2 separate regions of the Homo sapiens genome follow, and region 2 is linked to region 1. The links come from fine-mapping of genetic effects on gene expression. Tissue or cell type: whole blood. Region 1 holds a variant in brackets; the other region holds the start of a gene. All regions are shown on one strand. Distances are from middle to middle.

Region 1 (5,198 bases):
ACCCCACATTGCATCAAGCATGTTGAAATGTACCCACGTCACATGCTACATAGAACTGGTTGGCTATAAACAAGTTTTAAAGAGTCTTTTTTATTTTTCATTTAAAATTTTGAATAATTTCTCTGTTGCTATTTTTGTATACTTTGGAGCTGGAGTTTTCTTCTTTAGTTCTTAAGCACTTTTGTGGCCCAATAAAAAGTCTAGAAGTGATATGCTTTGTCCAAGTTTGGGGAAAAAAATAAATTAAAAAAAAAAAAAAGGCCAGGTGTGCTGGCTCGCGCATGTAATCCTAGCACTTTGAGAGGCTGAGGTGGATGGATCACCCGAGGTCAGGAGTTTGGGACCAGCCTGACCAACATGGTGAAACCTGGTCTCTACTAAAAATACAAAAATTTGTATTTTCGTATTTTTACAAAATACAGGCATGGTGGCAGGTGCCTGTAATCCCAGCTACTCAGGAGGCGGAAGTGGGAGAATTGCTTGAGCCCAGGAGGCAGAGGTTGCAGTGAGCCAAGATCATGCCACTGCACTCCAGTCTGGGCACCAGAGTGAGACTCCATCCAAAAAAAACCACTTGGCCAGGCAAGGTGGCTCACACTTGTAATCCCAGCACTTGGAAAGGCCTAAGCGGGCAGATCACTTGAGGTCAGGAGATGGAGACCAGCCTGGCCAACATGGTGAAACCCCATCTCTACTAAAAATACAAAAATTAGTCAGGCATAGTGGTACATGCCTGTAATCCCAGCTACTCAGGAGGCTGAGGCAGGAGAATCGCTTGAACCTGGGAGGCAGAGGTTGCAGTGAGCCGACATTATACCATAGCACTCCAGCCTGGGCAACAGAATGAGACTCCATCCAAAAAACAAACAAAGCAACTCTATAGTCCAGGAGCCTCCAATGTCAGGCATTCACTGTCTCCATCCCAGTGCTCATCGCTCTCTGTGTCCCCAAAATGAATAAATTCGTAAATTCCCCTAAAAATCTATCTTTAATCTCTCTGAATCTAATATGATGCAACTCACATTATTTCTGTATCTGTCAACTGTGTCTCTATAAGATACTTCTGTAATTTTTATCTGTTCTCTCTAAAGATCTCTGTTCACAACACACTGGGTGTCCAGCAGGCACGGTCGAGAGCCTGCCATGGCCCATGTGTTACCGTTCTTGAGCCTTGCAACAACTCATGAATAAATTCTATTATCCCTGTTTTACAGATTAGGAAACTGAGGCTGAGAGAGGGGAACTAGCTTGCAAGTAAGAGGCCACAGGGCAAAGAAGGGCTCTCAGGAGTGTTGACTCTAGTCCTTCTCTAACCTCTCTCAACCCCTCCTCTCAGTGGTGCTGCACCCATGCCAGCCGCCACTCCTTACTTGCTCCTTTTCCTACCCTCTGCTTCCAGGCAAGACGCAGATGTCATCTCCGTTCATACCCTTCATCTTGCCTCAACATCATCACCCCATTCCATCCCATAAACACTTCCTGAGTTCCTACTATGTGCCAAGCGCTGTGCTGAGAACTGGAATGAAAATAATGAATGCCAAGGTCACCAGGCTATGAGCTCCGAGGGCAGGGACAGAGCCCACAGCAGAGTTGGTGGGTCCTCATCAGCCCCTGTGAAGTGCCTGTGGTCTCCATATGTTCCCAAAGGAAGCTGGTTTCACTTTGAGCATGTTGGAGAATGTTATTTCAAACACCTTACACCTCCAAAGCCAGGCAGGGAGCCCTGGGCTGCCCCTCCTCAATGGTGTTGGCTTATTCCTCTGGGTGGGGCCTGTGTCCAGCAGCCCCTGGGCTGGTGACACCAACCACCCTAGTGCCCTGCACAGACTGCAGAGGAACACAGGGTCAGCACCATCTCGAGGGGCCCAAAGCCACCCTCCTGATAACCCCCCATATTTGGAAAGCACTTTAGTTTGCAAAAGGCTCCACCTTCTTTCTCCGTGTGTCCTCTCCCCACCCCAGCTATAAGTAAGGAATTTTCCCAGCCCACTTGGCCCCTAGCATCCAAGTTTGGGCAAGAACCCAGGAGTCCAGACTCCTAGCCCAATGTAGAAGAGCCTGCCAACTCTGTTTACTCCACAGTGCCCCAGAAAGGCCCTCTCTTTTCTAGACCTCAGCTCCCTGTCAGTACAATAAGAAGGTCCGGCTGGACAACCGCTAAGCTCCCTTCAGGCTTTAGCATGCCAGAGTCTACCGTGGGGGCGCAGGTGGCCAACTCCCAGGGGAGGAACCGAGGCCAGTGGCTGCACACACTGTGCCTGCACCATGCCGTCAGGGGAGGCATCATGTTCCGGCAGGACCAGCAGGATGAGTCACCAGATATGGAAATGACGCTGGCACACAGGAGGTCTGGGGGCCAATAAGCTCACCCTCGCCAAAACCACAGCTGAGGAGGAACAGTGCTGGGATCCCTGCGATTCGCCTAGCGGGCACAGGCTGCCAGGTGCAGATCCAGGCAGTCAAATGGTGTGCACAGTGTGCCTTCCAGCCCAAGGGTAGTGGAGGCTGCCCAGCCCTCCAATAACAATAAT[C/T]ATCACAATAAAAATAACAACACACAGTGGTTGGCTATTGTGTCGGGCACTTGACACCTGTTACCTTCTCTTACCTCTGAACCTGCCAGTTATGACATGACCCATTTTCAAGAGGAAACCCCGGGGCTCAGAGAGACAAAGGAGCTCTGCCCAGGTCACAGGGCCAAGGAGTGGGGCACCCTGCTCTGACTGCCCCAAAGCCCTCATCCTCCGCACCCCACTGCCTCTGCGTCCCACAGAGTCTAGGCTCATTTCGGCTCGGTGGCCAGCCTGAGGCCCTGGGGAGGGGAAGGGGTGTCAGGACGCCCAGGTGCAGATGACCTGGGAGGATTCTGACTCAGCCCCACAACTGGAGCAGGAGAGCACCACACCCTCCTAGGCCTCCTGGAGCCTCGCCAAGGCCTTCCTTAGGGTATGACATTCGGATGTCAGGAGACCTGCTGGTCCTCAGTGACCACAGGCCAGGCTGAGGCTGCCACAGGGGCCTGAGCTGACGAGGAAGGCTGAGCCCCCTGTGATGGCCGACAAGCTCCAGCATCCCCACACGCAGGCGGCCAAAGGTGCCTGCAGCCACCCGGTAGAAATGTGTCTGAACTGGGCCTGGAGCCAGGCAAGTGGGGCTCCTGGATCCTGGGACAGAGGGTACAACTCAGGACCCCAGGCTGGCACTCCACAGCACCATCCCCAGGGCATTTCCCACAAGGAGCACCTGGATCTCTCAGCAAAGATGGGGGCAGACTGGGAGAGCCCAGGAACTCAGGGCCAGCTGCCCAGCAGGCCCACCTCGGGGTAGAGGGTACGGCCGTCTGGGAATGAGGGAAGACAGAAGGGGGAGGCCCTGGGTGAGGGAATGACAGGAGGGGGTCTTCATCTTGTGTAGGGACGGGGGCGCATCTGTGGTGAAAAGCAGGACCCATCTTGGGGCGGCGGGTCCTCCTACCAGGGCGGGCTCCTGTACCAGCCAGACCCTAATGCCCTGCCTTTGACATCTCCGTCTCAGCCCCCACCACACCTCTCCTCTCCTCTCCTCTCCTCTCCTCTCCCTCTCTCTCTCCCTCTCACATTCCTCTGGGAGTCGATCAGTGCTTGAGTGACACCCCAGATGACTCTTTGCTATTAATTCCCACACACAGAATGGGCCCCTTGTTCTCTTCTCTCGGAGGAATGGCCGTGGCCAAAGCCATCCCAAGAGTCCCTGACTTAACCCTTCTCCTGGCCGGTCCTCTGCACATCCCACGCCCAGGGCCACAGGGCCAGCAGTAGGGAGGGTGCAGAGAGGGAGTCTGGAAGGAACAGGGGCTCCTTCCAGCCCACAGCCCCTGGAATAAAGTCCCCAGGGTGGGACAGCAGGACCACCCCAACCTGCCCAGGGAGCCTGACAGCAACTCCTCACCTGAGGTTCTCACCAGGCCCTGGAAGTCAGAAGGCCTGTCCAGATGTAAGTGTGAGGCCCAGGGTCCACAGCCTCCCCAGGGCCAGCCTGATGTCTCTGGACCCCAGGGAGGCCCCTTCAAGGGGCAGGTGGAAGGCTCAGACCCTCGGCCCGGCCCTGGCCTTGAGGGAGTTAACACGGACTGGAGGCAGGACACCACCTGTCAGGGCAGGTCTCTGAGGAGAGATGAGGCGGCCATGGCCTCTTTTGATCACAGGATAAATTGCTCCGTTGAGTAAAAGCCCAACATCCCCTCATTCCCTGCCCCTGCCCCACCCCCAATCGACCAGAGGCGGGAAGGAAAGGCTTAGACAATGAGAGAGAGGGAAGAGCTTGTGAGGAGAAACTGAGGCCCCGGGAGGGGAAGAACATACCCCTCCACTCCCACTTCCCACCCTCTCCCTGCCTCTTCCCCAATTCCACAAGCCGTCTTGGCTCTCTGGGCGCTGGAAAGCTCTCACCGGAAGGGGACACAAACACCTGCTCTTCCATCAATCTGGGCAACCCTGGCTCTCGCGCCAGGAGATGGTACAAATCCTGCGGTCCATGACTCTGTGAGGGTCGTGTCCTAGGGAGGCTCGGACGCATCCTTACCTCCTGCCTGTCCCCCCTCGACAGACGGTGAGCTGTGGGCTCACAGGAGGTGAGGTCCCTGGGACAGCCAGAGAAAGGGCCCCGGGGCAGTCTCAGGGAAGCTGGAAATGGGAAGAGGGAGATGCGGAGCTGGGCACAGGCACGAGGGAGGGGCAGGGTGACCCAGGGCATGCAGGGGACAGAGCCGGGTGTCCTGGGGAAGGTAGGCTGGAGCCAGGTGGGGAAGACTGCAGGTTGCCACAAGCCTTGGCTTCTCTAACTTGTCAGCTCTCCCCATCTCTGTCATTTTCCCAGGGTCCTCCCCACATTTACAGAGGCAGGGCAGATGAGAGGTGGCACAGGACAGAGACAGAGAAATTCATGGAGGGAGGGACAGAGAGAACGCATCAGGGAGAGAAAAACAGGGAGAGACAGAGACAGGGCTGGAGAGAGACAGGGAGCCAGGGCAGGAGGGCCAGGACAAGAAGGACACCAAGAGGCAGGAGCGACCAACTGTGGGATGTGGGGTCAAAATTAAAAAGCTTCCCAGAGAGAGGAGGCTGGGGACAGAAAGAGGAGAAGGAGGGAGCAATGGACAGAGAAAGAAACAAGGTGGAGGCCGAAGTGGAAAAGAAGGGAGAAAGGTCAGGGGGAAGAGGCCT
Region 2 (5,124 bases), 150 kb after region 1:
GTAATAAAAACAAATGCTAATCATTATTATTATAATTGTTAATAGTGATATTATTTTAGGCTTTGTATAAATTTCTGAGGATATAAAGTCCAACAGGCCGGGCATGGTGGCTCACGCTTGTAATCCTAGCACTCTGGGAGGCCAACGGGGGTACATCACTTGAGGTCAGAAGTTCAAGACCAGCCTGGCCAACATGATGAAACCCCGTCTCTACTAAAAATACAAAAATTAGGCCAGGCATGGTGGCTCCCACCTGTAATCCCAGTGCTTTGGGAGGCTGAGGCGGGTGGATCACTTGAGGTCAGGGGTTCAACACACGCCTGGCCAACATGGTGAAATTCTGTCTCTACTAAAAATACAAAAAAATTAACTAGGCATGGTGGCACATGCCTGTAGTCCCAGCTACTCGGGAAGCTGAGGCTGGAGAATCACTTGAACCCAGGAGGCGGAGGTTGCAGTGAGCCGAGATCTTGCCACTGCACTCCAGCCTGGGCGACAGAGTGACACTCCGTTTCAAAAAATAAACAAATGCATAAATAAAATAAAGTCTAACAAAATAAAATGTCCCTAGCCTCAAGGACTCACAAAGACCCCCACCCCCCAACCCCCCCGAAAGTACTGTTTACAGAGTGCTCACCTCATTTGTAGGAACTATATTACCAGGCCAGTCCCACCCAGAAAGAGGCCCTTTCAGCCAGTAGCCCATACCTGTTCTCATAGATGTCCTGGATCTCATACACCTTCTGGTCAATGACATCACTGGAGACACGACTGGCCTGTAGCTCATACACTTTCTGGTCAATCAAATCTGAGACAGTTTTGTGGAAATACTGGATGAAGTTTTTGATCACCTCAGGGATCACCTGATAGGTTTGCTGTTCATACTGACGTTCATAAGCAAGGTCCTGCTTTGGATCTCCTGGAGGTTGGATACAACAAATACAGAGTATGCTCAAACCCACATATATGATAGAACGAAATGGCAAGACCACCCCAGAAACTAAACTCAGGTCTGCGTAAAATTCCCTTTTGAATACTCAGAGATACAAACATCTCAAGTCACTCCCAATCTCGTTGTCCCTGTTTCTTCAAAAATATTACCATGACTTAAAGTTATTTTTCACTTATTATCTGTTTTGCACCCTTCTCCCAAGTCTAGGAAGTCAGGAATCTCGTCTGTCTTGTACTCAGACATACCCTCAGGGCCTAGAAAAGTGTGCGTTGGAGGGGAGAGAGGCAAGACTGTTGGAAAGTAAGTGGTAACAGGTACTTAATATTTCTTGAATGAATAACTGTCACCTTTTAAATATATGACTGTGCCAAGTTACTACTAATAAACCTCTCTGCTATATTTTCTATTCTTTAGGAGACATTAACATACAGAACTGCTGTAAGGATTAAACAAAATATTTCATACAAAGTACTTAGAACAATGGATAACACTGACTACTAAGTCAAGTCACTATAACGTTTCAGGAAACCTCAGACACCTCCTAAAAAGATTTCATTCGGGCTTGGTTTGAATTACTTAAATTTTTCACATCAAGATTTTCTTCCTTGGGGCAGGCGCGGTGGCTCACGCCTGTAATCCCAGCACTTTGGGAGGTTGGGGCGGGTGGATCACCTGAGGTCAGGAGTTCAAGACCAGCCTGGACAACACGGCGAAACCTCGTCTCTATTAAAAAAATTTAAAAATTAGCTGGGAATGGTGGTGGGCGCCTGTAATCCCAGCTACTCAGGAGGCTGAGACAAGAGAACTACTGCTTGAACGAGGGACGCGGAGGTTGCAGTGAGCCGAGATCGCACCACTGCACTCCAGCCTGGGGGACAGAGGGAAACTCCATCTCAAAAACAAAAACAAAAACAAAAACAAAAAAGCTTTTCTTATTTGGCTAATAGTTTACACAAGAAAACCATAGCCAGGTAAGTAATCCTTCTCTTCCAAGACTGAGGTGGACTATGATAAAAAGCCTGGTTTATTAGGCTTTATAAAACCCCTCGCACTGGCAGCTAATGACTGACTCCAAACCTGGACCATCAAAGAGCAATTTTTGATGCCTGTCAGAGCTGGTTCTAAGACATTCCAAAGGAACTGATCCCTACGAGTACTCAGCCAGCCTAACCCGTGGTCTCACCTGTGTGCATATCATAGTCGCTGGGATAAGCGTAGGGGTCATAAGCCGCCTAGAAGGAAAGAGACACAGTCAAGGACAGCCGCCAAGTCGTGAATTCAAAACGCTCATCCTAGAGTCTAGATGCCAAGCAGAGAGCTAAGGATACAGAGGCGAATAAGACACTGTGCCTGCCTTTGAGGAACTCACACGCCTTAGAGAAAAGGGACAGTAAACAGACAATGACAATACAACATTACGGGTGCAATGAGGTGGAGCAAAGGACAAGAGGCTGTGGGAATCAGCGAGATTTGACCAGACGGAGCCTAGACCAAAAAAACTCAGGTGCAGAAACACAGAAACGTCTAACAGGCCTTAGTCTCCGGTCTTAGAAAGGGGAAGGACAAGCCAATCGAACACGCGAAGTGGGCGGGCAGAGCCAGGGTTGTCTAGGGACCGGGAACTGTGGGAGCAGCCTGAGGGCCGGGCGGGAGGTCGGCCGGAGCTGGCCGCGACCCGGAAGCTGCCTCGCGCCGGGACCCACATCCAGTGGTCCCAGAGATCACCCCGTCGTGGAGCCCACCGCGCCCTTACGGCCACCTTACCTCAGACTCATAATCATCAGCGGGATAAGACATGGCTGCCTCGCTTGCGAGCACCGCCGGAAAGAGCGAAATGAGCGGCCCGCGCCTGCGTCCTGAGGCCGGAAGTTCAGCCCCACTCGGGCCTGCCGGGAAACCGGAAGCCTTTCCGAGGCCTCTGGCCATCTGAGACAGCCATATCCAGAAGGAAGAGGAGCCGCGTTCCGTGGCTCACACCTGTAACCCCACCAGTTTGGGAGGCCGAGGCGGGCGGATCACCTGAGGCTGAGGCCGGGGGTTTGAGACCAGCCTGACCAATATGGAGAAACCCCGTCTCTACTAAAAATACAAAATTAGCCGGGAGTGGTGGCGCATGCCTGTAATTCCAGCTACTCGGGAGGCTGAGGCAGGAGAGTCGCTTGAACCCGGGAGGCGGAGGTTGCGGTGAGCCGAGATCGCGCCATTGCACTCTAGCCTGGGCAACAAGAGGGAAAACTCCGTCTAAAAAGAATAAGAGGGTTACAAGTAGCCTGAATTTTCCTCTCTTCAAATAGGGACTTCTCAAAGAAGGTGAATCTATAATAGTGGTGTAGATTCAGATATAAGGACACGTATTTGGCGTAAAGGAGAGGCAAAGTTAGAGGAACCAGAAAGAATGCTACACAAAAGATGGCCGGCTTCTCGCGTGAAGGAAGATTCGGATACGGGGGCCTGATGGATTTAGTTGTAGGCGGTTTGCCTGCAGCGAGTAAATTATTCAAACGTTCGGACTTCACAAGACTAAACTTACTGGGGATAAAAATTGAGATTTGGCCGGGCGCGATGGCTCACGCCTGTAATCCCTACACTTTGGGAGGCCGAGGCGGGTGGATGATCTGAGATCAGGAGTTCGAGACCAGCCTGGCCGAAATGGCGAAACCCCGTCTCTATTAAAAATACAAAAATTAGCCGGGAGTGGTAGCGTCCGCCTGTAATCCCAGCTACTCAGGAGGCTGAAGCAGGAGAATCGGTGGAACCTGAGAGGCAGAGGCTGTAGTGAGCCGAGATCGCGCCACTGCACTCCAGCCTGGGCGACAGAGCAAGACTCCGTCTAAAAAAAAAAAGAAAAAAAAAAATTGAGATTTGGTCCCATGCAGTAAGAGGGAATGGAGAACAGGAGCCACCCAACTTTGGACATTAAAGTTGGAGCAGGCAAAGATGAGGCCAGCTGTGTCGCGAAGCCTGGGACATGGGCAGCTCTTGAGTACACCGGGTTCGAGGCCAGGGGAAACCCTCAAGGTAGAGATGGGGTTATAAAGCAAACCAATAAAAACCGGTGTATGAGTCAAGGAGAGGCCTTAGTTTAGCCATCTGCCCATACACAACACCTAGTGGAAATCCGAGTTCCAGTCCCTACTCCGCCACTGATTTGCTGTGTGACCAGGACTCTCTGGGTCCCTTTGTCACGCCGCCCTCCTTGCTTTTCCCACTGAGGCACGCTCCACCTCTGGGATTTTGCACTCACTGTTATCCAAGTCTAGAATCGAATGCAGTGGCACCCCCACTCCCATTCCCTTCCCCATCGGTATCTGCATGGCACCTTCAGGTGTCTGCTCTGATGCCATCCACTCAACATCCTATTGAGAATTGCAATGCCCAGCCCCAACTCCCTATGCTGCGTTCTTGTTTTGTGTTTCTTCCTTGTGCTGTCACCAGAGGTGACACAAATTTGGAAATAATGGAGCTTAAGCTTTACCGACCCTCGATTTGGTTCAGGACCTTCCCTGAACCAAGGAAGAGTCACAGTCTCTTCCTTGGTTCAGGGAGGGTCCCCAACAATGTCCTCATGGTCCTTTGCTTTTGTAAAATTTGTGAAATATTTTTATTGCTGAAACCACCTTTGCAAAAATTGTAACAGTGAGAAAATAATGACAGTGAAAGAGATCTGATCTAACCAACCCTCATCTTCCATTTAATCTTCAGACTGCCCTTAATCATTCCTGGCTCGAACCGAGCTAACTTTGGGAGACATTTAGTTTCTAGTTTAAATAATAACCCTTCTCCGAGGCCTGGCACAGTGGTTCACACCTGTAATCCCAGCACTTTGGGAGGCCAAGGCAGATGGATCACCTGAGGTCAGGAGTTCGAGACCAGCCTGGCCAACATAGTGAAACCCCGTCTCTACTAAAAATATAAAATTAGCCGGGCATGGTGGCATATGCCTGTAGTCCCAGCTACTCGGGAGGCTGAGGCAGGAGAATCACTTGAACCTAGGAGGCGGAGGTTGTGGTGAGCCAAGATTGCACCACTGCACTCCAGCCTGGGCAACAAGAGCAAAACTGCCTCAAAAAAAAAAAGAAAAAAGAAAAGAAATTGGCCGGGCGCGGTGGCTCACGCCTGTAATCCCAGCACTTTGGGAGGCCGAGGCGGGTGGATCATGAGGTCAGGAGATC

What was found. PIP is the estimated chance that this variant, and not a neighbour inherited with it, causes the effect.
Region 2: EIF3L starts here. The variant in region 1 is fine-mapped to the expression of EIF3L in whole blood (INTERVAL, PIP above 0.99).

The regions. Positions count from the first base shown.
Region 1 is chr22:37,997,211-38,002,408 of GRCh38, reverse strand. It overlaps a transcript of POLR2F not described here. Among named protein-coding and RNA genes, the nearest start is that of MIR4534, 11 kb to the right of the region's middle. RefSeq lists a silencer at 3,533-3,827 and an enhancer at 3,217-4,071. The variant C/T (reference allele first, on the strand shown) is at 2,532.
Region 2 is chr22:37,847,075-37,852,198 of GRCh38, reverse strand. EIF3L (eukaryotic translation initiation factor 3 subunit L) reads right to left here and starts at 2,780. Exons shown (of 13, transcript NM_016091.4): 1 at 2,717-2,780; 2 at 2,136-2,184; 3 at 709-919. The coding sequence starts at 2,749. It overlaps MIR659 (microRNA 659), which reads left to right and starts at 4,425; the gene lies at 4,425-4,521. It also overlaps a transcript of ANKRD54 not described here. RefSeq lists enhancers at 2,094-2,615, 2,616-3,138, 3,139-3,661.